Linked DNA regions of Homo sapiens: all the other regions are linked to region 1. The links come from fine-mapping of genetic effects on gene expression. A gene starts in region 1. Each other region holds a variant in brackets. All regions are shown on one strand. Distances are from middle to middle. Region 1 holds the start of ARSB (arylsulfatase B). Region 2 overlaps ARSB (arylsulfatase B). Region 3 overlaps LOC124900191 (a long non-coding RNA gene). Region 4 overlaps ARSB (arylsulfatase B). Region 5 overlaps ARSB (arylsulfatase B). Region 6 overlaps ARSB (arylsulfatase B). Region 7 overlaps ARSB (arylsulfatase B).

Evidence for each region. PIP is the estimated chance that this variant, and not a neighbour inherited with it, causes the effect.
Region 2: its variant is the best candidate, but not a certain one, in a credible set for the expression of ARSB in prefrontal cortex (BrainSeq, PIP 0.69).
Region 3: its variant is the best candidate, but not a certain one, in a credible set for the expression of ARSB in monocytes after interferon gamma (Fairfax 2014, PIP 0.68).
Region 4: its variant is the best candidate, but not a certain one, in a credible set for the expression of ARSB in monocytes after interferon gamma (Fairfax 2014, PIP 0.86).
Region 5: its variant is the best candidate, but not a certain one, in a credible set for the expression of ARSB in whole blood (TOPMed, PIP 0.53).
Region 6: its variant is the best candidate, but not a certain one, in a credible set for the expression of ARSB in monocytes (Fairfax 2014, PIP 0.68).
Region 7: its variant is the best candidate, but not a certain one, in a credible set for the expression of ARSB in blood mononuclear cells (TOPMed, PIP 0.64).

The regions. Positions count from the first base shown.
Region 1 is chr5:78,982,813-78,986,891 of GRCh38, forward strand. ARSB (arylsulfatase B) reads right to left here and starts at 2,498. Exons shown (of 8, transcript NM_000046.5): 1 at 2,125-2,498. The coding sequence starts at 2,436. RefSeq lists a silencer at 1,821-2,680.
Region 2 is chr5:78,837,648-78,841,726 of GRCh38, forward strand. It overlaps ARSB (arylsulfatase B), which reads right to left. Exons shown (of 8, transcript NM_000046.5): 6 at 1,709-1,779. Among named protein-coding and RNA genes, the nearest start is that of ARSB, 150 kb to the right of the region's middle. The variant T/G (reference allele first, on the strand shown) is at 1,806.
Region 3 is chr5:78,765,456-78,769,524 of GRCh38, forward strand. It overlaps LOC124900191 (a long non-coding RNA gene), which reads right to left. Exons shown (of 5, transcript XR_007058832.1): 2 at 2,387-2,597; 3 at 1,303-1,409. Among named protein-coding and RNA genes, the nearest start is that of LHFPL2, 120 kb to the left of the region's middle. The variant C/G (reference allele first, on the strand shown) is at 1,895.
Region 4 is chr5:78,809,459-78,813,537 of GRCh38, forward strand. The region is part of intron 6 of ARSB (arylsulfatase B); the gene reads right to left. Among named protein-coding and RNA genes, the nearest start is that of LHFPL2, 160 kb to the left of the region's middle. RefSeq lists an enhancer at 226-726. The variant C/T (reference allele first, on the strand shown) is at 2,198.
Region 5 is chr5:78,948,964-78,953,042 of GRCh38, forward strand. All of the region lies in intron 4 of ARSB (arylsulfatase B), which reads right to left. Among named protein-coding and RNA genes, the nearest start is that of ARSB, 34 kb to the right of the region's middle. The variant A/G (reference allele first, on the strand shown) is at 2,051.
Region 6 is chr5:78,776,337-78,780,336 of GRCh38, forward strand. It overlaps ARSB (arylsulfatase B), which reads right to left. Exons shown (of 8, transcript NM_000046.5): 8 at 873-4,000. Among named protein-coding and RNA genes, the nearest start is that of LHFPL2, 130 kb to the left of the region's middle. The variant C/CAA (reference allele first, on the strand shown) is at 1,515.
Region 7 is chr5:78,800,589-78,804,667 of GRCh38, forward strand. The region is part of intron 6 of ARSB (arylsulfatase B); the gene reads right to left. Among named protein-coding and RNA genes, the nearest start is that of LHFPL2, 150 kb to the left of the region's middle. The variant C/T (reference allele first, on the strand shown) is at 1,539.

The sequences.
Region 1 (4,079 bases):
AGAGAATAAAGTGGGTGAGAAAACTGGAGGAAAAAAAATGTTTGGGGAAGCAAGGCTGCTTTAGAATCAGCTACACTGAGAGGCCTCTAAACCTTTCAGAGTGCCCAGCTTCTCTACTCATCCTTTACTTCATAACCATGGGGTACTCTAAATACTAAAGTTTGTTCTCCAAGACATAATTTTGGTGACTGGTGGGGGAGGATGTTAGGGGACAAAAGCAACTGATTACGGGAATGGGTTTTTTATTTTATTTTGTTTTGAGATGGAGTCTTGCTCTGTCGCCCAGGCTGGAGTGCAGTGGTGCGATCTCGGCTCACTGCAACCTCTGCCTCCCGAGTTCAAGCGATTCTCCTGACTCAGTCTCCCGAGTAGCTAGGACTATAGACGCATGCCACCACACTCGGCTAATTTTTGTAGTTTTAGTAGAGACGGGGTTTCGCCGTGTTGGTCAGGCTGGTCTCGAACTCCTGACCTCAGGTGATCCACCTGCCTCAGCCTCCAAAGTGCTGGGATTACAGGCGTGAGCCACCGTTCCCGGCCCAGGAATGGGTTTCTGAAGTTGGTATTTGCTTTCCTGTCCAACTCTGTTGGAAGGGAGGAAGTTGGAGAAATGAATGGCCCTTCCATTCTTTTGCAATCTGAGTTCAGTTCTCTTACTTCAAAGCAAATGCAGAACCCTTTGGGCAAACCTCACCTTTCCCTTCTTCTTCTTCTTTACTGGCACATCCCTTTACTCCCACAAAGTGTCCAGGGTGAGATTTACACAATGTAGGGGATTCCTAATTACACGTAGCAGCCAAGGTCAGAACCGCCAAAAGTACTAAGGTGGATGGTGAAGGGAAGCATCCTTTACTCCCATTTCTAACCTTGGCTACAGCTATTTCTCACCCTTAGCAACACCCAATCTTTCCTCTTTATAAAAGCCTTCAGACCACTGCGCATATCTTTATCACAAGTAAGCCCTCCCTTCTCTTGATCTTAGGACCACGTGAGGCTAGGGTTGATCTGACAGGTTATGCGAACACACACTTGGGAGGGCAACATTCAAATATATATCCCCTGTCAGTAGCACAGTAAGCTCAAAATATTTTTGTTGAGTAAACAGCATATGTACTCTGTGAAGGCATGCAGGTGGTATCCAACAGTTCCCATTTACTGTATTTAATATGGTCATAATAACTTCAGGGTCTTAGAAATATGACAATCGTATTCAGATTGAGGGGAAAAAAGGCCAATTTCATAAGCCCGGGACGACCAGTGGATGCAGGAAAAGCACAACGGACACTGCCTTGACCACTTTCTAGCTGTGCGATTCTTATGCCAACGAGCCTTTACAGGCTTCCTGCCTCGTCTGTAAAACGGGGTAAAAACAACTACCTCATGCACTGTTTCAATAATTCACTTTAAAAACAACAAAGTGCTATGCAAATGTTCTTGATATTCTTAGCCATCTAACATCTATGCACGCTCTACATTTATATTTCCTTCGTTAACTGTGGAGCCGTTCCTAAAGGGAAGCTTTTAAAGCGATAATGAAGATGCTCAGAAGAGTTCAATACAAGGTTACATGTGAAAGGAATGTCAGCAGCCTAAGAAAAATCAACCTAGCATCAGGTTTCATTCCAGGGGTGTTGAGAACCTGGAAAAAAATAATCTTTGGTGGGACACTCCTAACCTATCACCGCTGGGTTCCCACGGGCCAGGGTCGCACCCACGGCGAGCACCCCTTCATTTTACCTCTCCCCTCGTCTTTGCTCCCAGCCCACGCCCTCCCCAGCCTCCCACCTCAGGACCGCTCCGCCTGCCGGCCGCGGCGCCCAGCACCCGGCATTCCCATAAACCCCTTCGCCCGGAGCTTCAGAAAACGAAAGACAAAGCCACCCGCCCAACCCGGCGGCCGGGGCGCGGGTCCGCGGGGCGCCAGAGCCGGGCATGCGCAGAGGCCGCGGCGGGCTGCCGGCCTGGAAGAGCGAGGTTGGGGCGAGAAGCCGCCGGGACCCATAACTGGGTCGGCGGTCCGAGCCCCGCCTGCCAGCGCCCGCGGCCTCAAGGGCCGGGTAGGAGCGGCAGGGCGCCGGCGAAAGGCGGGGCGGGGGCGGCGCGGGCGGCGGGGGCGCCGCGTACCTGGTAGCGGCCAGTGAGCAGCTGGCTCCGCGACGGCGTGCACAGCGGCTGCGTGTAGTAGTTGTCCAGGAGCACCCCGCCGGCCGCCAGCGCGTCCAGGTGCGGCGTGCGGATGCGGGAGCCGTGGAAGCCGACGTCGTTCCAGCCTAGGTCGTCTGCCAGCAAGAAGACCAGGTGGGGCGGCCGGCTGGCCCCGGCGCCCGAGCCCGGCGGCGCCAACAACAGCAGCAGCAGCAGCGGGAGGACGACGGGGAGGAGCAGCCGCCGAGGTCCGGGGCCTCGGGGCAAGCTCGCCGCGCCGCGCGGACCCATCCTTGTCCGCCCGCGGTCCCAGCGCCTGTGGCGCCACCAGCCCCTTGTACCGCTGATAGAATGAGGAACTGGGCTGCCGGGGCCTGCTCCGCCCCGGCGCGGGACGGCACCCCCAGCGGGCCGTGGGCTTGCGAGGCCGGGCGCTCGGCCCCCGCCGCCTCCGACCCGGGCCCCCGGCTGCTGTGGCGGAGGAGGAGCCAGAGACGAACCCGCGGGCGCCCGCTGCCCGGCTTCTTGGAAACTCAGCTGACGCTTGGAGGGCACCAAGGCCCGTTATCTTCCCCGGCAATTAAATTTGCACTGTGGTTTCCTAAAAAAAAAAGATGTGTTCTTTAATAACGCTTCACAATTTACAAAGCATCTTCACAGCCCGCGTCTCCTGTAAAGCCTGCAACAACTCTGACAGTTAGACATTATAATTAGTGCCAATTTTTCATAAGAAAAAAGCTTATAAATGGTTAAACCTCTGACTCAGATCCTGAACCATGATGTCTAGCTAGCAAGTCATTTCTAGCACAAGAGCCCAGCCTGTGGCAGGTGGGAGGACGGTGAAAAGGCAGAGGTCTAAATAGCCTTTCACATTCATTTATGCGTAGTGTACACCCATGAAGCCGCTTCCTCCCCACTAGCAAACAGGAGGCCAAACACACAGTCTGATTGCACGGTGCCCTTTGGAAGGTGCGGTTACTTTCAAGTTGCCCTGGGAGGATTTGGAGTGTTGCGTGGTCATTGAATAAATAGCTCATTCGCTTGTCCGGATATGACCCCACTCAGAGCTGGCTCCCCCACTAAGCAGTGACACTAAGAAGCACACAGTATCTAGTTAGCCTGAAATATCTGAGTGGAAGGAAAAAATCCTTTAGTCACGTGCTTATTGAATTAGGAAGTTAGCCGTATGACCAGTAGATTCCCGTTGCCATCCAGACTTTCTGTCTACTCTGTCTGGAGATATTATAGTTGTTAACAGGTGTAGGGGAAAATTTTTGCATTGCCTAGAGACCATACCCTTCCAGGTTGAGTCTGATTCCGTGGAAGTTGTTTACAACTTTATAAGTTATAGATAAATAACAATGGAAAATAATTCTTATTTATATATACACAAATGAACTTTATCCAGCGGAGTAGCAATCCTTCCCCTCCACCACTACCAAGGAAAACAGTTTCACCTCCGCTTGCATATTTATTTTAGTATTCCTGATCTGTTCTTTGGATTGTCCTTTGAATTGGTTTTAACACCTTACCAATTTCCTTATTAATGAGTTAAATAAAATCATGTATTCACTTTTATATTTGTATGAGGGTCATGATTTTACCTTTTTTTCCCCAAGAATCCTTTAACACATGAAATGTTTGCCTCTTACATACACTTTTTTTCTTTGCATGAAGTAGATTAGTTTATGTTGTATGCACTTTAATCTCTAGTGGAATCAATGAAATTTAGCAGAAAAAAGTGAAAATTTTAGCATTAAATTCAAAGAATAACTTTTGAGAGAACTGTTTGACTCATTATGTCAAGGGTTGAACTTTTCATTTAAACACCCTGTAGAAGACCTTGAAGGACTGAGAATTTCCGCTGTGGTTTTGTGTCTTTCTCCCCCGTAATCCTTCCTATTCTCCTTGATAAAAATTAAGAAGAAATAATT
Region 2 (4,079 bases), 150 kb before region 1:
TCCAAAGTATTATCCTTTCAACAAATAATAAATCTATAATATTGTATGCATATAATACATAGGTGTACTAAGTCTTGAAAATCGGATGTATATATTCTACTCACAGCACATCTCAATCCACAGTTAGCCATATTTTAAGTACCTGACAGCCACATGTGGCCTGTGGCTACTATACTGGACAGCACAAATCTAGACTGTTCTTACAGTCCTTAGGGCTCAAACCTTGCCCTTGCCTCTCTCACTGACATGCGTTTACTCCAAAAGAAATAGAAATTTCTCCACGATGTAGCCATTCTCGCCTGTCTCAGGGCCCTTTCCTGTCCAGGTCTTAATGTGTCCACTTGGTCTTTATTGCATCTCAACTCTCCAATTGTCCACTGAGTCATCAAGTAATCATTACTGAGTGCCTAGCAAGCTCCCAGTATTTGTGTTAACTGACAAGGATAAAAAAATACAGGAGATGCTGACTTCCAGGAGCTCTCAGCTTGGAAATGCAGGCACAAACACGAACATGTGAGGGATGCTATACGGAGACACATGCACACAGGAAGGAGTGACTGCTCCTTCTGGGGCTCTGGAAAGCATTCACAGAGGGAGACATGGGGCTGGGTTTTTAAGGGATGAGAGAGATTATAGACAGGTAGGGAAAATGTGTTTCAGGCATAGGGAAAAGCATATTCATGACAGTACGATGATCTGCATGGAGATGACAAGTGTCTAGGAAGTGAGAACATGACAAGGAGTGCCTGGAGTGAGGCTGGCCGGGCAAGTGGGGCCCGAGTGCCTGGTGACACATTTAGAATGACTGTGGGGTAATTCTCTGAGCAGGAATCTCTGAATGAGAATATTTTGTGGTGAGCTATAATGCAGTTTGGAAAAAACAAAGAAGTAAGGAGAGCCTGAACTAAGTGGGCAGCAGTATGTCCAGAAAGGAGCGGATGGGAGCCCCCATGTGAATAAGGGAATATAAGGGCACTGTTTGCAAGATGAGCATTATGATGAAAGCTGGGCAAAGGGTCTAATTGCTAAGGCTTTCTATGCCCAAACTCACTATGCTGAGGGCATTAGGGCCACTCGCATGGTATTTATACAGGCCTATTACAGTCCGTTGTGATCTGGAAGCACTACATGCATGCCTGCCCTGAAGGAAATGGTAAGGCTCTTTACAGGTTAATTTAGGCAGGAGGCAGAATCAAGCGGAATCACTTCCAGGACTGCTAGGAAAGTCACACTTGTGACACCCAGCAGGTGTTGGGCAGTACCTGACCAGCCCAATCAGATAATGTGGTTGCTCACACTACCTGGAACCCAACTGTGGCTTATCTGACTGTGAGTTTTCTGGAAGGTGGCTCTGGAGCTCTCAGGTAAGAACAGGGCAGCAACATGACATCTACAGTGAGAAGGAGCCTCAGAGATGCCATGAGTTCTTCTTTTGTAAATGGGGAAGGCTGGGGCAGGGAGAGTTCAATGGCTTAAAGGCTAGTAAGCGGCAGAGCAAGAATAGAATTCACCTTTCTTATTTCATAAGCTGGTGTTGCTTTCACAGCACACTGCCCTCTGAGATGAGCGGGAGATATGTCCCGAAGAACTGTTTACCTTTATAGCAACTCAGGAAAAAAGAGAAAGCTAGGCTAGAGACACACTAGGTAATCAAACCATCTTGGTGGGCCAATTAGATTTAATCTAGTAGCAATGCACTGGTACTCACACGGTGAAGAGTCCACGAAGTTCGGGTCAATATTATGCAGCAGCTCAATTCTGGGGGATGGGCTTCCTTCACTGGAAAACAATTTTTAAGGGAATGT[T/G]AATTTCCTCTCTCTAATGGGCATGAATTATTTTAATACTTCCCTTCCTTGTACTTATAGGAAATAACAAACCTGCCAGTTAACAACTCTGTCATGAATTTGGAGGTCTCCACAATCACGGCTGGTGCATCTTCAAGCAGTCATCGTTTGTTTACATTGACCGAACCCTTTACATAAGAACTTCAGTGTCAAGCATATGAAGATATTTTAAAAAATGATTCTGGGACCCTTTGAAATAAATATTGTGGCCTTATTTAAACATGACCATTTTTTACACCAGAGAAATGAGAACTCAAGTCACCTCATATAGACTTCATACTGAACACTTACGAGTAAATGAAGAAACTGCATCTGCCAAAATGGTGGCACCAATATTACAGATGCAACATGCCTCTTAAAGAGTAACCTACATCAGAAAAATTAATGTCCTCCATGTCCAAATTTGCAACACGGATCTTAGATTTAATATAAATACATGAGAAATACCTAGATCTCTTTAAGGCTTTAAAAAATGTGTACACACAAATACAATCACAACCTACATTTGTGCTGAAAAGTGACTTGGAGATCGCTTAGTTCAACCCCCTCTTCTTACAAATGATGAAGGTACATAGTAAGTTATTGGTAGAATATTGGGTTGTGTGACTCTCAAAGCAGTGTTCTTAAGAAATTGGGAGCATAAACATCACCAGATGTATGTAGGGAGCACAATAGGCACCCAGGTCATTTTGCTAGTGTAGACTCAGCCTTACAGAAGTAGCTAAAAACAATTTAAATCATTGAGGGTGTACTGAGGACTCCCTGATAATCTAATACAGTTCAGCTAAGTACTAAAGGTTGCAAAGTACTGTTAACACCACAGGATTCATACATAATATAAATAATCAATAAGGCTCCTGACGTAACCAAGACATGGTTTCAGGTGTCCCAGTGTCCACACGCCAAACTCACAGTTAGCTGTTGATAGCAGTGGTTTGGGATTTCAATGCCCAATACAATTTCAAAAAATCTGGGTTGTGATTCACAACTTTGTATTTGCCAAGTAAGGAAATATAAAAACAAATCTTAATGAATTAATTTAAAACAAAACAAAATAACAAACTTCAACTACCATCACCATTATTTTATAAAATAAACAGCAAAAAAGGTAGGAAAGACACGATCTCTGAATAAATAACAGCTCCTTAAATTGAGCATATTTAACTTTGGTATTCTATCAGATGTCATTGTCCCCCTCTACTCCATAAATCACAGTGATCAGAGACAGTGGAAGAGAAACATTCAGGGGTGCCCACGGTCCTGGGACAGCAGCGGCAGCACTGCAGGGGTGGGGGTGGGGCATATTTCCCAGGACCTTTCTTTTCTCATTTTCTTTCGGAGACACTTAACTGCCTGAATATCCTGGAGACTATCAACCAGTCCAAAATGCCAGGAACTACGGTTTGATCCCAGAAGCTCTGAATGGAAGTAGAAATGATATGTAAAGAAAATGGTAAATATGAGAAAATCTAAATAGAATGATGATGATGTCTAATTTGTGGGCTTAAAACCAAACAAGTATGCCAGGTACAATGGCTCACGCCTATAATCCCAGCACTTTGGGAGGCTGAGATGGGAGGATCCCTTGAGGCCAGCCAGGAGTTTGAGACAAGCTTAGGCAACATACTGAGACCTGGTCTGTACTACTACTACTACTACTACTACTACTACTACTACTAATAATAATAATAATTTGAGCATGGTGGTGCATGCCTGTAGTCCCAGCAACACAGGAGGCTGAGGCAAGAGGATCCCTTGAGCCCAGGAGTTCAAGGCTGTAGTGAGCTATGATCACACCACTGCACTCCAGCCTAGATGACAAAGTGAGACTCTGTCTTAAAACAAACAAACAAATAAAACCAAGCAAACAGAGTTAAAATCCTGGAAAATAATAGCAAGCAAGGAAAGGAAATCAAATGAAAGCATTTTAAAGTATTTATATTGTTTGGAAGTGGGGTAAAGCTACTGATTAAATTTAGATTTAGCTAAGTAAAACTTTTGTGTTAAATTTTTAGGGCAACTATTAAAAATAAAGGCTTTTTCTGGACTATAGGTTGAAAACTCAAAAATTTCAGGGCCAGTATATTAATACATAACTACGCAGCTTTAAAAGTAGAGTTCACTGTAATACCCCAAAATATTAGGCACAATTAAATAAAAACATTTTCCTAATAACTTTAGAGAGAGTTTATATACATACTCTTCATTCATGTCATTTTTTTCATTATTCAGAAG
Region 3 (4,069 bases), 220 kb before region 1:
CAACACTGTGCTGTAACAACTTCTGCTTCCCCATGCCACCTTATGACTTTGGGGCTTAGATATTGAATACTGGGATAACCAGGAACCTCTGCCAGCATCCAGGGAGGTGGCATACTTTAAATGGCTCTCAGCTAAGTTGGAGGCAAGGACTAACTGGAGCGGGCAGAGTACGCAGGAGACATGGATAACCGGGGGGAGTATGTTGAGCCACAGAACCCAGAAGCAATTGGAACGTTCTGAAAGGGAAGGTAAGGGAGGGGCCAAGACGAGTTTGGCCTCTGTGACCACCAAGACTCAAGCTATCTTAGTCTACACATAGGAGACCAAGCTTGTGTCTTCTTTAACCTCAACTCCTGCCTTACATTTTTTTTCCAACTTCACTTTCCTTAAGGAAACCACTAGTTTATCTTCACTGTGTCTAAATCAAAAGAACACCCACACCCACCCTGTGGAAGAAGGAACGCCTCTGTAAACATGGATTGATAACTAAACAGCATCAGGAAGCACATCACCTGCCCTTTGTAACTAGTCCTCGGCATTTGCAAGACTAATCTCAGCACCAGGTATAAGTGATGGAGCCAGTTTTCTGCAGGGAAGTCACACGTGGAAAAGCATTTGTAAAAAAGCATGAACAAACGAAGGGGGAAAATCTTAGGGAAGGATTGGAAGATGAAGGGGGAAAATCTGAGTCTGTTCAAATCTGGAGACCATAAAAAGTGTTTGAAGCCATAAGCTTATATCTTGGAGGAGATCCCAGGGTAAACAAAACTTGCCTGAGGAGTCTGGATAGTGTAATAGTCCGCCCTGATTTGACGAATGTGCTGAAGCCCTCCCAGCTAATAGAGAACAAGCCCTTTGAAGCTCCAGATACAGACTTCCCTAGAGCAGGCAGCAGGGTGGAGCTGCCTGGAGGCTGAGAATGCAGGGTCTGCAGGCAGAACGTCAGGGTTTGGAACAAGAACCAGAGGGAAATCAAGGACTAAAATGTCATCCTAAAATCAGAAGGTGGTTAGGTCCTTGGAATTCAACAAATCGAACACTCATCCTACTAGTATTACCTAAGCCAAGCCCTGCTCTGAGGCAGATATTCCATGAAACAAAGCAGACACGGGCCATTTCTACTGATTAACAATACAGTGTGATGACCACTCCTATGGGAGATGCGTGAGTCAGGAACTCCCATTCCAGTTCAGCGGGGTTAGGAAAACCTTCCCAGGGAAAGGGGCCTTTCAGCTTAAACCTGAAGGATGCGTTAGTCAAGCAAAGAGAAAAGAGAAGAATGAACTGCACCAAGGGACTCACCTGTGTTAAGCCCAGAATCACGAGGGTGCTGGTGGACTGGAAGAGCTGAAGGAGGTTCAGGAGTTCAGATGAAAGAAACTGGGATTATTCATACTGGAAAAGGAAGGCTAAAAATTGAATGAAAGTTTTCATTATAATAAGGTGTTTATACAGAAGGCATGACCTCCTGCACTGAGCCTTGCTCAAAAGAAAAGGGGCTCAGGGGTTCCCAGAACTGATCCAGACTCAGGGATGGGCCAACCCAAGTAGAAGGGCCAGAAGGCATCAAAGCACCATCCCCAGAGATCCTCAGAACCCCTCTCAGGGAAAGCCTGTGTGGGGTTGGGTGGAGTAAGACCCTTGGCAGTGAGGGTGAGATGGTCCCAAGGGCTACTCTTAGTAAGAAATAAGTGGTTGTTAAATTGCTTTCTAAAAAAGGCAGTCAGTTATCTGTAGGGCTTTCCTTTTGCCAAAGGGTGTTCCAACTGGGACCAGACCTGTGTGCTTGGATCAGAGGGCAAGGACTGGGCAGCGCCCAGTGGCCTTCCCTCTCTAGCTCTTCCCAGCAGGGCCCTTATTCCAATATTAATGTCCCAACATTAAAAGAACATTG[C/G]CCAGGTGCAGTGGCTCATGCCTGTAATCCCAGCGCTTTGGGAGACTGAGGTGTGTGGATCACCTGAGGTCAGGAGTTTGAGATCAGCCTGGCCAACACGGTGAAACCTCTTCCGTACTAAAAATACAAAAGTTAGCTGGGTGTGGTGCTGTGTACCTGTAATCCCAGCTACTCAGGAGGCTGAGACAGGAGAACTGCTTGAACCTGGGAGGCAGAGGTTGCAGTGAGCCACGATTGTGCCACTGCACTCCAGCCTGGATGACAGGGTGAAACTCTGTCTCAAAAAAAAAAAAAAAAAAAAAAAGATCACTTTGAAGGATCACCAAGTGAGTAGCCTTTCCAATGTGCTCACAAGTCTCACTTTGGCTCTGTCCATAGAAAGGAAAAGGACCTTGACTATTCTCTGGCTACCTCTTCATTTTTCCTCACCTCCTGCCACAATTCCAGACACAAAATAGAAATCAGAGACAGCTGTGTGCTCAGAATGCCCACCTGGAACAGGAGGACTGGTAGCCAGCCTGGGACGAGGGTTCAGGTTCAAACAAAGGCTGGTTTTTCCTTCCTGTCTCCTCCCAGCTGGGGCTCCTTCCCACCCTCTTCTGCTCCCTCTACTATGGGGCCCAGGAGACTGGGGGAGAGGGCTGGTCAGGCCACTCAGGAAAGAGCCATGGGGGCCAATAAACACATGGAAAAGTGCAAACATCTGGCAGTGAAAGAAACACAAATTAACATTTTAAAGTCTGTCAATCCAGCAAGAATCTTAAAAATGTATAATAAGTACTGGTAAAAGTAAGGTCAATCTCTACTCACTGACGATGTTATGGATAAAACCTTAGTAACAAAGGGAAGGGCTAATGGCACCCACTGCTTACTGCTCAATGCCTTCCCTGTCCCAAGAGAGGCTGTCTCCCGCCATCTGGGGATGGGTTAGCTGGACCTAGTTTGGCTTTGCTTAGTAACTAGATGTTTTGGACTGGGGTGATCACCAGGATGACATATTCTCTTTTTTTTTTTTGAGATAGAGTCTCGCTCTGTCATCCAGGCTGGAGTGCAGTGGCCCGATCTCGGCTCACTGCAAACTCTGCCTCCAGGTTCAAGCGATTCTCCTACCTCTGCCTCCTGAGTAGCTGGAACTACAGGCACCCGCCACCACACCCAGCTAATTTTTGTGTTTTTAGTAGAGATGGGGTTTCGCCATGTTGGGCAGGATGGTCTCGATCTCTTGACCTCGTGATCCACCCACCTTGGCCTCCCAGAGTGCTAAAATTACAGGCATGAGCCACCCGCCCCAGCCGGGATGACATATTCTAAAAGCACCATCAGCGGAAGCCCACAGCAGCCCCAGTCAGGTCCTGTCTTCAGAAGGTGACTCCCCAAAACTGTTGCCTGAGAAGCAGGGACTTTGCCTCATCCCAAACAGTAAGAGGGGTGGTGGACATAATGACTCTGGCTTCGCTACTTAACTTTTTTTTTTTTTTTTTTGAGATAAAGTCTTTCTCTCACCAAGGCTGGAGTGCAGTGACGCAATCTCAGCTCACTGCAACCTCCATCTCACGGGTTCAAGTGATTTTCCTTCCTCAGCTTTCTGAGTCACTGGGATTAGAGGCATGCACCACCACACCTAATTTTTGTATTTTTAGTAGAGATGTGGTTTCGCCATGTTCGCCAGGCTGGTTTCGAACTCCTGACCTCAAGTGATCTGCCAGCCTCGGGCTCCCAAAGTGCTGGGATTACAAGCATGAATCACCATGCCTGGCCCCAGCTACATGGGGCAACAATGTTGCCAGTTTAGCCATCAATGTATTTTTCTAACCAGGTTGTGTTGACCAGTAGGGAGTCCTCTAATTTATATATTAATCCAAAACATGCTATCTGAACCTAAACATAGTTTTTGTTCCTCTTTTCAAAGATAGATCCTTGGCCAGGTGTAGTGGCTCACACCTATAATCCAAGCACTTTGGGAGGCTGAGGTAGGTGGATCACCTGAGGTCAAGAGTCCCAGACCAGCCTGGCCAACATGGTGAAACCCAGAGGCATGGTGGTATGTGCCTGTAGTCCCAGCTACTTGGGAGGCTGAGGCAGGAGAATCGCTTGAATTCAGGAGGTGGAGGGTGCAGTGAGCTGAGATCACGCCACTGCACTCTAGCCTGGGTGACAGAGCAAGACTCCATCTAA
Region 4 (4,079 bases), 170 kb before region 1:
AAGGCCAGCCCCGTGGAGAGCTAAAAAGAGTGAGGAACAACAGGCAGACAGATGATCCTGGAGCACGTTCAGGGAGGAGGGCAGGAGCCAGGTCTGGCTCAGCTCCCCAAGTCAGCGGCACTTCTTGCCTTCAGCTGAAGCTGGGAGACCCATCCTACGGTCAGGCTGAGGGCCGCCAGAGCCTGCGGCCAGGCCTAACACTAGGCAGAGACGACTCTGCAGCTGTCTGCTCACACTCACTGCCAGTCACGCTTCACTCCACTTTCCTGCTCTGAAAATCACGTCCTGGCAACCTGCCCATCGGACCTGGAGCCAGCCTTGCCCTCTCCACTGCGGGCCTGTAGGCCTGGCCTTGAACCCCAGCCTGCTGACATGCTTCTCAAGCTACAGGCCCATTGCTTTGGCCCTCTGATTCTGGCTGACCATGGGCCACAGAGAGGAATAGGGGGCAGCTGATGCTGGCAGTTGTAGACTGCACAAGCAGGACCCATCTCTGGGCCCTTTCCATCAAGCCTGGTCTGGTGGCCAGTGTGGTGGGCACCCCACTAGACCCCTTGATCCGGTAGTGAGTTCCAGAAGAAAAGGCACAGCTCCAAAGCTCATCTGGAGCAAACTCTGTTCTCCTAATCTCCATTCACTTCTCAAATTTCCCGACCCCCGCAAGCTTCACTGGCCTCCTAGAACCTCCCTACCAAAGGAAAAGGTTAAGTGGTCATTTCTTTAACTCTCATTTCTCTTTCGGGGACAGAGCCTGCTATTCAGGGGCATCAGGGAAGCAGGGGAAATAAGGATGGGAGTGATTAAGTGCATGTCCAAAACCAGCTCTCTGATCTCATGACTTTCTTGTACCCTTGGTACAAGTGCTCCAGAGAGAACTGAGTTGTGAAATGACAGGTAAAAACAGCACAGTGAAAACCCTTCTTGCTTTGAACAGAAAATGCAGTTGGTGCCTGTGAGTTATTTGTTTCTCCTTTGCTTTGGAAAGAGATTGTCTAGAGAATTTGGAAACCTACATCCCATTTCAGAAAGCAGACCAGATTTCTGCTGACAGTTAGTTTGGCAGGGGGTAGAGTTTGTCTGTTTTTGCCATGAGAGCTCGTTTTCTGGGGGACACACCACACGGTTCTAATTCTAGATGCCAGCAAAGCTGCGCCTTTAACCATGAAACTTGAATTAGCATTGAATGGCTTTTGAGTTTTTATTTAGGATGCATTTTAAGAAAATACAAGGCCCTCCAGCTGCAAACAGTAAGTGCCACCAAGGACTATGTGAGTTAAACATCTTTAGGATCTGTAGTCAGCCTTCCTGTGCTTTGGGAGTTTCAGGAACTTTCAACCACAGAGTACTGTGTTCAGTTGTGTCAGAAAATGACTGGGGTTGGATTTCTCCTAAGCTCTCAAAGGCTTTGAATCTTTGACATAGTGTTGTTAACATAGTTAAACTGTTTTCTACACAGAAGGCTTACTCAATACAACAAATTAGCAATACAAGAAAAGTTAGGTAAAGTTTCTATAGAAAATTCAGATCCTACAATGTTAGATTAATTTAACAACATGAAAAAATGTCCAGAGCTGTAGGTGTGATGAACTGAAGGCTCCCCCTGCTTTTGGAGGCAGCAGGAGCGCAGTACAGAAGCATGCGTTTGACACTCACAACCCGCTGCCATCCTATCATCATGTTAGGTTTCATCTTTCCAACTGGACTGCAGTTGCTGAGGTTAGCCTCCGTATACTATCCTGGTCTTGCCCCCATTTCCTAGTACAGTGAAACAATGGATGCTCTGGAATGTTTGTTGATTAAATAATTGAGATCACACATGGATACACTAGAAACTTTTTTGCAGGGCAGCATTCTTTCGGTTAGTGGGATTCTGTTCTGGGTAGAGAAGCTGCTTCCCTCATTCTCTCCCTAAGAACCTAAATTCCATCAAGAGGACACAATCACACCAGCAAGAGAAACTAGTAGGACAACTGAAATTCATCACAGGAGGCCACAAAAGAGTTAATTCAGCTCTGATATGAGGATTATGAGACAAGGGTATAAGGATTACACACAATGGATTTATAAAAGAATACAATTTTTTTTAAAGGACAAAAGTAGTGACTAGGGACGTTTGTTTCAGATGAAGAAATAACCATGTTAACCTTTTAAACATTTGCATCTGTGAATTGTAGCGGCTCAACATAAAGCAGATTGC[C/T]TACATCCACTGCAGCCATTCTGGCATGAGAAAGTTCTCTTGCCTAAAGCAAAACAGATGTGTGAGAGGAAAAAGCAAAGTCTCTTATGGGTGTATCAACATTCATAATTATATAGTTATCTCAGGAACTATAGATCGTGTGAAGCAATGAATATGGAATCCTTCCCATATTTTTTCCCTAAAAACTCAGTATAAAAAGCAGAAACTTAATATTGAAAAAACACTAATTATAAAGGCAGATGAAAAAGTTAACAGTGTATTCACATTTCATCCATACATTTTTTTTTTCTTTTTGGCCAACTGAACTAATCCTGTACCAGTGATTAAATATTCAGAATTTTTGGCCAAGTGCTGCCTAAGAGAGATCCACTTGACTGTTCAAGCAATTAGAAAAAGTGCCACATCCTTGCATGTGCCTCCAAGCAGGAAAGAGCACATCAGGGACATCTGCATATGTGTTCACATATGGGATTCACAGGCAAATCAACTTGGAAATGGGAAAGTACACAAAGGCTACCCCACTTGAGATGCAGGTCAGTATTTACAGAGCAGTGGGCAGGTGCTCGGCTGTCTGCTAGGTCCTGGGAAAGGTACAGGAGAAACACAGGCAAGAGCATGGGCACTGAACAGGAAGGAAAACAATACCCTGGAGGGCACAGCCCCCTAGCCCAAAAGAAGAGTATTTACAGTGGGGAGGGGAGGACAGAGCATGGACAAAGTCTCAACAAGCAATCATCCGAAACCAGGCTGGGAAAGTTGTTTAAGGAAATTTCAAGTTTGAATGATATGTAAAACGTGTATATGTAACAGATGAGAAGTGGCTACACAACAATCAAATCAATTTGGTAAAGATAAATGCTAATACGATTAAAATGACCCCAAATATTTGTATTATCACATTATTATAGAAATGAAGTCATATGAACATTCTGTTCAAACACACACACACACACACACACACACACACACACACACATGATATCACAATTTAGCATTAAATGCAGCTTAGAGGGCTTGAAATTGTACTGGTACACATGAGTTTAATAATAATTGATGGGCTGATGTGGTGGCTCATGCCTGTAATCCCAGCACTTTGGGAGGCTGAGGCAGGTGGATTGCTTGAGCTCAGGAGTTCAAGACCAGCCTGGGTAACATGGCGAAACCCTGTCTCTACAAAATACAAAAATTAACCGGGCATGGTGGCATGTGCCTATAGTCTCAGTTACTCAGGAGGCTGATATGGGAGGATTGCTGGAGCCCAGGTGATCGAGGCTGCAGTGAGCCGTGCTCACACCACTACGCTCCAGCCTGGGCAACACAGTGAGACCCTGTCTCAAAAAATTTATAATAATAATTGATGATAAAAAAGTTTACAAATTATGTGTACAGAGATGGAATAAGTAAATTTCTTCCTTCCTTCCTTTCTTTTTTTTTTCTCTTGCTCTGTCACCCAGGCTGGAGTGCAGTGGTGCAATCTCGGCTCACTGCAACCTCTGCCTCCCGGGTTCAAGTGATTCTCCTGCCTCAGCCTCCCAGGTAGCTGGGATTACAGGCATGTGCCACCACACCGGCTAATTTTTGTATTTTTAGTAGAGATGGGGTTTCTCCATGTTGGCCAGGCTAGTCTTGAACTCCTGACCTCAGGAGATCCACCCACCTCAGCCTCCCAAAGTGCTGAGTTTACAGGTGTGATCCACCACGCCCAGCCAATATATTTTCATGAACAGTTTTTCTACTTATGCAGTTATACAAATTAAACATGAGATATAATCTCTACCTGAAGTCATATAGCATTTACTTATCACTTTTAAAAAATGCAAGGCCAGGCACAGTGACTCACACCTGTAATCCCAACACTTTGTGAGGCTGAGGTAGGAGGATT
Region 5 (4,079 bases), 34 kb before region 1:
GAATTTTTAAGATTGTGGTGAAATTCACATTACATGAAATTAGCCATTTTAAAGTATCCAATTCAGTGACATTTAGAACATGGCACAATGTTGTGCAGCCATCACCTTGAAAATTGCATTTTTAACAAATGCTCCACTGCTGCAGGTGGTCCCCAGACAGCGCACTGAGAATAACTATGCTAAGATGATGGGTAGAGGTGGCAAGGAATGAATCATGGATTTCTCTCAGATTATAACAGAAATTTTTAAAAGTTAGCTTTATCAAACATCAAAATCTAAAAATTATGCCTTTGCCTTTACCGATCACCAAATATAATCCAACACCAGGAAGCTAGATTGTTTTCATGGTTTTCTGTACTAATGGACTCAACATTTATTGATTTGAATGCAACCAGTATTCTTATCCTTATAAAGAAGTACAGGGCTAAGTGAAGTAAAGTGAGAGAAGTGGGAAAAAATGAATCACTGCTCTGTGATTAGTTAGTCCAGGTCCTTGGGTTATAATTACATTATTATAGCACATTATTAATTTCAACTTCAGGAAATGAAATTGTCAATAAACACAGAAGTCTCTGGAGAAAGAAATGCAAATTAGGTTTCTCCTTATATTCAAACCCTCATCTAAATGTAAGTAAAACTAATTATTCTGGTAAGGCTTAATACAGGCTGGGCGTGGTGGCTCATGACTGTAATCCGAGCACTCTGAGAGGCTGAGGTGGGTGGATTGCCTGAGCTCAGGAGTTCGAGACCAGTCTGGCCAACATGGCGAAACCTTGTCTCTCCTAAAAATACAAAAATTAGCCAGGCATGGTGGTACACGCCTGTAATCCCAGCTATTTGGGAGGCTGAGGCAGGAGAATCACTTGAACCCGGGAGGCAGTGATTGCAGCAAGCCAAGATCATGCTACTGTACTCCAGCCTGAGTGACAGAGCGAGACTCCATCTCAAAAAAAACAAAACAAACAAAAAAAAGAGTTAATATAAATACACAATGGCTGCATTAAGATGTTGAGGTCAATCACTGTTTTCAGGGTTGCAGAATCGGTTTTCCTAGTCTTAACTCATGACCTAGTTACTCAAGAGTTGTCCCTAACCTTAACTCATTTTACTCCAGGTCAGATTCCTGTGCAGGTTCCTGGAATTTAGCAACTACAAAGATCAGCCATGGTGACAAGCATCCAGAATACAATGGTGTCTTCCTAACAGCCACTAGTGCTGCTTCTCTGGACCACTACCCTGCGAAAACAACAAACACAGAACAAGATGAAACCCCATCACAACATAAGAAACCAAGATGGACAGACAGCTTATAATGCCAGAATCTTGGAAACATGTCCAGAAACTACAAGACCAGAGAAGCTGGGCTGAGGAAATAAGAACTGGCCCACCCTGCTTTGCCTCATGACACAGAGCCCTTCACCTAGATTAAGAGAGGCAGGAAGACAGCCTGAGAAGGGATGGCACTAATTTAAGCAGAGGAGAATTATTACCTCCTCTACTTCTGTGTGCTTAGAGATCACAACTCCCAGAAGACAATAGGCAGGAAAAGAGAAGGTCTGGCAGTGCTGGCACACTGTATCCTGAGGAATGTCCCCAAAAATAAAGCCCTGAAAATGTGGAGATAGGAAGAGTCTGGGGTTCTTTTAGCCTGTCAAAGAATTAGAGTGCCAAAAAAGAAGAAACTGTAACTAGGTGGGTCAGGTTCAATAGAGTAGAACACTTAATGCCTATATGCCACCAGGAACTCTGTGAGGTGTATGCATCAACCTGACCTCAAGCTGCAGATTTGAGAAGGAATCAACCAGGAAACAGTGACCAGAGGCCACAAGACGGCCACACATTCTGTGTGTGCAGATCCTTCACCACTATACTCCAAGGAAGAGCATCTAGCTGGCAATGACTTCCTATAAAAATAAAGATTTTAGAAAAGTTCTATTCAGAAAGGTTCAGGAAAAGGATGGGTCCTGTGAACACAAGCGTAGAAATGCAGTACAATGGGATGAAATAAATGGAAAAGAAAATGAGATGCAAAAAGACAACTGATTAGGTT[A/G]ATTGGGTTTTGACCTCAAGTAGATCTGGGTTTGAATTCTGGCTTTTTCAGTTGTTAGCTGTGTGGCCTTGGACTAATCGCTTAATTTCTTTAAGCGGCTCACACTGATAATCCTAGCATTTTGGGAGTCTGAGGTGGGAGGATCACTTGAGCCCAGGAGTTTGAGACCAGTCTGGGCAACATAGCAAGACCCTATCTTTATTTTTTTATTTTATTTTTTAAAAAGAAGTTTTGATTTCTTCATTGGTAAATGGGATCAAGAAACCATTTACTATCTCACAGGGTTACATTGAGGTTTAATGCTACTAAATACTATACTATACTATACTAACAAGCTTGGAAGAAAAGGGTACTGATTGAAACAGAGACAGCATTGCAAAAAAACTAAAAATACAATCAACAATAATCTATGTTGGAGATATTAAGGTGTAGGATTAAAATTGCAAAAGTGTCTAAACTGGTAATGCAGAAGAGCTCCAAAGCCTGAGAAAAAGGACAAAAAAAATGAAAAGGATGAGAGAAAAGCTGAATCAGGGATTCAACACAGTAATTAAAGATATTTTTGAGACATAAATCAAGTAGAACAAAAGCAATAAGCTAAAATAGGAACAAGGAAAGCCTCCTGGAGTGAATAATCATCTCAGCATGCAGTTTCAGGGCTCACTATATTTCAGGCAAAATTAATTTCAAAACATTTTAAAGACACACACCTAGATATAATTCAGCAAAAAATGTAAACTATGGAAATAATTTTTTAAATGCCTCCACAAAAGGCTTCAGGGACCAGCTAAACAGAAAGATCTTTCCAACATTCTATAAACTATTCCAGAGCATAGAAAAAGATGGCAAAACTAACCACATTATTTTATGAAGTGAGCACAACCAAGACAACAAAACCTGACACAAAAAAGAAACCACTAACTCTACTTCCACTTCTGAATTGATGCAAAAATCCTAAATGAAACCCTAGCAAACTGAATTCATCAGTATAATAAAAATACATAGGCACGGTCAAGTTGGATTTAACCTAACAAAGCAAAGATGATCCAAGATTAAGATATCTATTAATATAGTATCAAAATATAAGACAATCCTATTTAAGGTGATCCTCATTTTCTCAGTGAGAAGCTCCAAATGTTACTACTACCAGCTTGAATAAATATAGATGTTTATGAAATAGTCAACTATCTGTTTGAAAGTACAATTATACATACACATTTGCAATCATATAATAAAGGAAATATTTATCTTAAAATATTTTTCCATTCTCAAATATCATGAAAAAAATTGTATTCCACCTCTTCCCATGCACTCTTCTTTCTTTCTTTCTTTCTTTCTTTTGAAACAAGGTCTCGCTCTGTTACCCAGGCTGGAGTACAGTGGCGCAATCTCAGCTCACTGCAGCCTCAACCTCCTAGGCTCAAGCAATCCTCCAGCCTCAGCCCCTCCAGTAGCTTGGACTACAGGCACATGCCACCACACCTGGCTAATTTTTGTATTTTTTGTAGAGACAGGGTTTCACCATGTTTCCCAGGCTGGTGTTGAACTCCTGAACTCAAGTGACCTGCCTGCCTCGGCCTCCCAAAGTGCTGGGATCACAAGCGTCAGCCACCAGACCCAGCCTCCCATGCATTCTTGATGGGAATGTTATCACAAGAGCCACTTAGAGATATTTAATACAGTCTTCCAGAACTAGCATCTTCACTTCTGTCTGAGCACATTTAAGCCCACGTACAATACATTAATCCATATATACTTTCACTTTAGAAAATCATTTGTCCTGAAATTGTCTAATTGTGATCTCTAGAACAAAGACTTGTTTTATAAACTTATGACTTCCAATTCTTGCAACAATGAGGTCATTTCCCAGGAATAATTTTGCTACACCAGTGTTACATGTCCTAGCATCTTTTTTTTAATTGATTCTTTCTAGTGACTTCTCTAGGCATTCAAAACCAGCACTGATCAAAATGCTATGCCAGGATATTCAAAATAAATTAAATTGAGAATGACTCCCAGAATCTGAGAG
Region 6 (4,000 bases), 210 kb before region 1:
GCCAATCAACCAACATTTATAGAATATCTGTGTGCCAGGCATTGTTCTGGACACTAGGGATATGAGACTTTAGCAATTATCTAATTCAACTCATCACTTTACCAGGAAAAAAACCGAGGCACAGAGAGGATGAAGTGATTTGTTCATGGTTAGTCTACTGCTAAATAGCAAAGTTGAATGCTTTTTCTACCATCTCTTTTCAAACAGCAGCATTTGATAAATGCATGTGGACTTGACAATCTATTCCCCAGGAGGCTAAACGAGACCATTTTCCTCTGATGTGGTGTGAAATAAGTCCACAAATCTGACACTCCCTTTGAAAAGTAAGATTTTCCTCCCCTAGAATATGGGCTGGCCTTAGTGACTCATTTCTAACAAATAGAAAAATGGTATAAGTGACAGTGTACACCTCTAGAGACTAGGTCATGAAAGGCCCTGTGGCTCCCTGTTTATTTGCTCTGGAGGAAGTTAACTGCCATGTGTGAGGACATCCAAGCAGCCTGTGGAGATGCCCACATGGCAAGGAGCTGAGGCCTCCAGCCAAGAGCCTTGTGAGTGAGTCAGCTTAAAAGTGGAGCCTGCAGCCCCACTCAAGTCTTCAGATGACCACAGGCCTGCTTGACAACAATCTCACGAGAGACCCTGAGCCAGAACCACTGGGCTAAACCACTCCCAGTGTCCTTACCCTCATAGAATGTGTGAAGTTATGAATGTTTATTGTTTTAAGCTGCTAAGTTTTGGGGTAATTTGTTACGCAGCAATAGAGAGCTAATACTCTCTTTTACTGTCACTTTGTTTTCACTCCTACCCTTCCTTGACCTCCCTCTAATACCTTATTTTATAGTTTATATTCTTAGGGCAATGATTGACACTTTTTTTAGTTCTAAAATTTTTACTATATTTATTTATTTAACAGCTTTACTGAGATATAATTTATGTACTATAAAGTTGGTTGACACATTTAAAAATTGTAATAAAACATAAAACTTAACATTTTAACCACTTTAAAACATACAATTCAGTGGCAGTAATTGCATTTATGATGTTGTATAACCATGACCACTATCTAGTTCCAGAACTTTCTCCTCACCCCAAATGGAAGCCCCATACATATGGCTGACACATTTTAAAAGATTAATTTTATTTTGTCCCCCAAATCTGGGGGGACAAAAGTAACAAAGAAAAATGAGCTCACAATTAAATAAGCAAAACCTTCTGTAAAGGTAAAAAAATTTGCCGGGCACAGTGGCTCACACCTGTAATCCCAGTGCTTTGGGAAGCTGAAGTGGGTGGATCACTTGAGGTCAGGAGTTTGAGACCAGCCTGGCCAACATGGTGAAACCCTATCTCTACGAAAAATACAAAACATAGCCAGGCGTGGTGGTGTATGCCTGTAATCCAGCTACTTGGGAGGCTGAGGCAGGAGAATAGCTTGAACCTGGGAGTTAGAGGCTGCAGTGAGCCGAGATCACACCACTGCACTCCAGCCTGGGTGACAGAGCGAGACTCCATCT[C/CAA]AAAAAAAAAAAAAAAAAAAATTGGAAAGAAATAACATTATTTCTAACAACAATATATCAATCTTTTCACATTCTTATATAGAATCAGAGAATCTAATGAAATACATTCTATTATGGATAAACCAAAATCTCAAGTACTTGTTTTACAAAAAATTAAGTCTTCAAAACTCTTTTGAAGTCCACTGGGTGCAGAACATCCCCCACTGTGCCTGAAAACCAAGGAACTAGAACTGGAGACAGCTGTTGGGAGGACAGCAGCGATAACAGATAGGTGCCCTGTAGCGATGGCCTCCAACGGCTACCTACACCCAGCCCTGGGATTCGGAGGATGCAGAAGGAACATCTGGGCTCAGCTATTTCATGCTGTCGGCCATACACTTCCAAGTGGGAGGTGATGGCAGTTTGGTCAGCTGTTTGCCAACCCAGGAGTTGGGTAAAGGTTGGTAAGAGATGTTATTAGTTTTAGCACCATTTCCTTCCAATAGTCTCATTTTAATACAATACAGGTTAGTAGTGACCAGAAAATATTGCTACTGAATTGAAGGATGACTATACAAGGACTTATATCAGATTATTTGTTGCTTTTAGTTTCTAGTGTCCCATAAAGTATAGAAATGGAAATTGCTGACAAGAGAGTACCTTTGGTAGGCACAGTTCCTTTTCTCCCCCCACTGGAGAGGACGCTACAACCTTGCTATAGAGTGTCCTGTGACTGCCCAGTGATGTAGATTATGCTCCTACCCCAGGAGGGGCAGCTTGAGAACAGAAAAGCAACAGCTGGAAGACATTTATATTACCTCTGTATTCAGCTCATTGGACTAGCATCTTTCATGGTGTGAGACTTTCTCATTTACTCATTTGTCCATTTATTCATTTGTTTTAAAAAATGAGGCCAGGCATGGTGACTCATGCCTGTAATCCCAGCACTTTTGGAGCCCAAGCTGGGATAATTGCTGGAGCCCAGGAGTTTAAGACCAGCTGGGCAACATAGGGAACCTTGTCTTTTCAAAAAATAAAATTAGCTGGGTGTGGCGGTATATGCCTGTAGTTCCAGCTATTTGGGTGCCTGAGGTGGGAGAATCACTTGAGCCCAGGAGTTTGAGGCTACGGTGAGTTGTGATTGTACCACTGTACTCCAACCTGGTGACAGAGTGAGATCGTCTCATAAAGATATAAAAAATTAAAAATAAAATAAAAATTAAAAAATGAGTGCCTTCAGGCAGTGTTCCAAGCATTGGTGAACACAATGGTGGGGCTAATGCAGAAAAGAGTATCATTTTTGCACACATTTCTCTGGGTTTGACACTCTCTGGAGCTAATATGGACTGTTCCACATTAGTAAGACATTAGTGGGATTGAGAAAGGGCTGCAGGTGTCAAACTGCATCCTCTTTGCCAGACCCCAGAACCTCAAAACAAGCAGTAAAACAGAGAATAAGAGGACTGTGGGTGTGCCCTCCTCTGCTTTACCAAGGCCCAGTATCCCAGACACTGGCCACTTGCTTTTTCATATCCTTTCCTGAGGTTTCTTCTCACTGCTAGTAAATAGCAGTGCAAGTCTTAATATATTATGAAATAAAGCTACAATCACAATGACTAACTCCATGCAATATAGGAAAAGCCTCGCTGAACAGATGCCACAGAGCCAAGCATCTCCCACCCAGCCCTCTTAGTGTCTACCATGAACATCCTCACAGAGCAACTCCACCGCCTATTACGGGGAGGCCTCTAGCTTCAGCCCTAGGGGCAAAAGTAAGGCAGGGCTCAGCAGCGTTCCAGAAATCAGGGGTGCTCAGGTAGAGAAGCAAAGTGGCCTTCCCAGGGATAGGACTACTGAGGTCAAAAGGAAAGGCAGGAAAAGCCACAGAAGAATTGGAAGTGGCAGGAAGTCTAGACAGAGTGAGCAATGGCTGGGGGGAAATAAATTACGATAAAAACACATTTCTTTATTTTAAAAGCCACAGTCATGGTGCAGGCATTTTGCTGTTGACCTGAACAACAAAATGGGCCTTATGCTCTGTGATGAGATAAGTGAGTAAGGGGTGAACCAAGAGGGGTGGTTCACTTGGAGTGCCTGAACATGATCCTTCACCGACAGGGAGAAGCCTTGGCCAACAGAACCATTAATCACTGTCTGCTCCCTTCATTTGCGTAAGAAATGTGATTCACTCCAATAAAACTGGCTATTGGCAGAGGGGAATCGAACGTCTGACTTGTGAGTCTAAAAGAGCCAGCTGTTCCAGCCTCCAGGATTCAGTGAGAACTTCCTATTTCAAGTTAAGTTCCCAGCTGTCCCAAGGCTTAGGAAAGGGGGATAAACCCAGCCACCCCCACCTCTAGACACATGCTCCAGCCAACAGCAGGAGTGTTGCAGATTTTATCAGCTTCTTAAATGCATTAGGGGTTGAAATTAGACACCTCGGTGTGGTTTAAGAGCAAGAGAAGGGCCAAGTGAACCCAGGTTGGGATAACAAATGAGACAAGAGT
Region 7 (4,079 bases), 180 kb before region 1:
AATTACAGAAAAACATTAAATTAATTAATAATTTTTTGGAGGGTGTGCAAGGTACTGTTTTAGATACCAGGAAAAGTATCTCTACTTAAGAAGCTTAGAATGAATTGGGAGAATAAATGTCAATAAAAGGCAATACATGATAAATGCCAAAGGAGTGGTAAGACACAAGTTAATTTAAGCATTAATTACTTTGAAGAGTAAGCACTACAGAACTCCAGAGATGGAAAGTCTATTTCTGGTTGGTTGGAGGGGAGACTTCCCAGAGAAGGTGAGACTTAGGGGATGAAGGCTTGCACTAAAACATCAGTAGGATTCAGAGAGGAGGATGAGCAGGAACAGGACATCCCAGGCAGAGTGTGGAAGAGTACAAGGTGAGAATTCACCAAGTTTGTTTGGACTCTGGATAGTTGAGCACCCTGGCTGGCTTGAGGAGGACAAAGTAAGAATTGTTAGGAAAAGATGGGTTGCGTTAGTACCTCCAACATATAGAAGTTAGAACTTTATTCAGTAGGTACTTGGAAGCAAGTAAAATTTTTTTTTAGCAGGGATGAAAGGCCTGTTTTAGAAAGACACATCTCCATGTTCATTATACTCTGATTACTAATTAAGTTTCTAGGATGACCTGATAGTACAAAAAAGTTGCTCTATACAACAGCCAGGAATAACTCTGTCACTGGAAGGGGATAGTCTACATTGTAAATACGTACCTTAGCATTCTGTATCAGAGCAGAAAGAAACCAATTGAAGAGCCTAGTCGGGGAAGTACTGAACCAGTCCAGGGTTGGATTGGTCAAGTAAGTCTAGACGATGAATAGAGCAGGAAAAAGGACTGCTAGGTCTGGAATGGCATCACTGGAAGAACACGTGAGAGATGTTGCTTTTGGAGGAAGATGAATTGCATGACATTAGCAATTGAACGTGTAGGTTTAGAAGTGCTGATGGATTTGCCACAGGTGCACTCTCACTCACACTCCTCAGCACGCTAGGAATAAAACTGAAACTGCAACATGGCCCACAGTGTCTGCGTCATCTGCCCTGTCTCCTTCTTGGGATCACACTCTGACCACATTTCTCGGCCTCCCTTGCAGTTGGGTGTGTGCTGGCGGAATGTGAGTGCGGTTGGGAGCACCACTTCCAGGCAGGCCTGGGCCCAGAAAACCCTCTCATGCACAGCCTTCCATGCAGAGAAGCACGCTGGCCTTGGCAGGTCATTAAAAATGGCAGAGCTGCAAAATGAAAGGAGCTGTGGTCTCCAAGACACTGCTTTGAACAGGGATATCTAACTGCTCAGGAATATCTAGTTTGCACTTCTGCAAATGAGAAATAAATGTCTATACTGTTCGAATGTCAGTTTTGGTTTGTTCCAGCAGCCAGCGTTATCTTAACTAATCTGTCATTCTCCCAGTCTCATCTCACCCCACTGCTCTCACTGTGTATGTTCCAACCACACTGGTTTCCTTCAGTTCTTTGGGCACACGAAGCTCTGTTCATCCAGTCTAGCCCTTCCCTGCTGCAAAGGTCTTTGTGTTAGCTCTTTC[C/T]TCTACCTGGAGCACTTTCTACAACTCCTTGCCTGATAACTCCTTTTCCAGGTCTCAGATCAAATAACACTTCCTCAGAGCAGATATTTTTTGACCTCCCAAATTAAATCAGGGCAACCCCTGTTCATCTTCCATAACACGTCTTACAATTTATCATTATATATTCATTTAATATATTTAATATTATTTAAATTATATTTGTTAAATTAAATTAAATATATTTAATACATGTCTCCCTAGAAAAGTATATGATCCAAAAAAAGCAGGGATCATGACTCTTGTTCACCAGTGTACTGTTCATTCAGCACCTAGCACCGTGTGGGTGTTTGAGAAATATTATGGAATAAATGAATGAACTGGAGTGCTGCAGTCACAGTTAGATTTGAGAATGATCGCAATAGGGACAGATAGAGAGTGGAGAGAACAGAGCAGCAGGCTGAGAAACAGCCCCGGGAAACACACACTAGGGTACAGCATCTACCTTCCACCCCTAAACAGAGGCCGTGGAGGAGAATAAAGTTTAGAGAAGAGAAACTAATTAGAGAGATAATGATTACAGAATGAAGAGCACTCAAGTTCTTGAGGGGCCTTAGACATCATCTAACCTGTTCTCCCCTTTGCATAGATGAGGAAATAGAAGTAAAGTTCCCTGGCTTAGCTAATTGGTGTCCACGTTGGGGTGGCCATACTAAAAATGTTAGAATTGTTCTGTTTGCATTGATACCTGAGAGGGAATAGGATCAAAGTCTTTAAATTTGTGGCCAGGATAAAACTGTGGTCCTACTGCCAGATTTAAGGGGTGCCTTGTGAAGGTCTCATAATGGACTTAAATGAACCAATGTCTCCTAAGATCTCAACTCCAGGACATTTTCTCCTGCAGGGATTAAAGAGAAGGGGGACTGTTTGAAAACATGAGGAAGGGACATCTAGGTCATTATTTGGTTGTGTTTGCTCTCCTTCAAGTGAAACACTTATCTGAATGCAATAAAGAGGCTTCTTCAGACAGATGAAGAGCAGGCCCTGTGGGCCATGGAGAGAGTCAGTTTCCTCCCCAGTGGGACTCGTCTGCTTTCCTGGAGAGTGTTTTCACTTCCATGTTGAAGCTGGAACTCCAGCCTCCCGACAGACAATTCTCCCTAACGCACTCCCCTCTGCACTAGGGACGGCCGCCTCTTGTATTAATACAATTAAATTAGCCCGTCAGTTCCCTGGTATCCTTTGAACACTTGAGAGAAAGTCGGCAGCTTACTGGGGCTTTTCCAAGAGAAATATGTGCTACTAAAAAGTGATTTCTACACACATCCCTCCCTCCCTTGATCACGAGGTAATTACTGGGCTATGAAGGCCGCTGAAGCTGGGTCCTGGCAAAGCTAAGTGTGTGCTGCTTTCCGACTGCCAAAGGGAGCAGACAGAGCCCTGGCCTTGGTCCACTGGGGCCTGCACCACTCTTGCAAGCTTCCATGAGTGAGGTCAGTGGCATCCAAGTTCCCACAGAAACAGTGCTGGTCTCCTCGGCTGGAGGGCTTGATCAGCCATCTGCTTCCCTGCTCAGGCTGCTTTCCTAGTCGATCCAGCCCAGAGCCCTTGCAGAGCTACAAATGATGCAAGTGCTATGAAGACCAGAGGTCTTCCCCCATGGGATATAGTAATGTATTCGTTTCTTCAACAAATATTTACTGAGCATCTACCCTGCACCTGTGCTGGGCTAGGAACTGGTTTTATCCCATTTGATGGTTATTTATTGAACACCTACTTTGTACTAGACGTTGTACTCCAGTGCTATTCCCTGCAGGCAAGGAGCTGGAGGTCTGGTCAAGGGCCTATTTGTTGTTTCAGTGCCCTTATTCTCCCACCCGAGGGCACCTGGCAGAGCCAGACAGGGCCCCTGGCAGTCCTGCTGAGTGAAAGGTATAAGCAGGCACCCAAATGGCTCTAACAGTCTTCAGCCATTAACGTTCTTTCATTTCAAGGAGCTCACATAAGACACAGGCACAGTGAGACTCTTGCAAAATGAAACAAATGCCAGGGAAGAGAAGTCTCTCAGGATTTGCAACTGCTCACTGCAGATGTAACCAAAATGTGGAATGAAAAAAAAAAAAAGATCCCTTCAGACTCAGTTTTTGTGGAAAAAAAAAAGTGTTTCACTTCAGCTCAGCATGATTTTTAAAAAATCAAAACTGATTCAATTCCCTTTTCCTTTCCTTGCCACCCCATCCGAACCACCCTATCACTGAGGTTAGAGGACTTACTTGGTCAATGTCATCACATAAGCCTCTCTTAAGGAAAAAAAGTAGAGAGTAAGTTAGAGAGGATGGGAAGGTTGAGAACTGCCTACTGTTTATATGACAGAAGAAATGGAAACCACTGTACAATTCTAACTTATCAAGCAGGGTGAAAACACCACTAGGAGCAAAAGGGAGAGAGCTCAGAGGGATCAGGAGAAATCTTTTGACATGGCAGATAATTAAGACACTAAAACTAACAACCAAAGGCAGAAAGGCAAGCTGTAATTACCCAAATGCTTTCAAAGCCTGGAGAGGA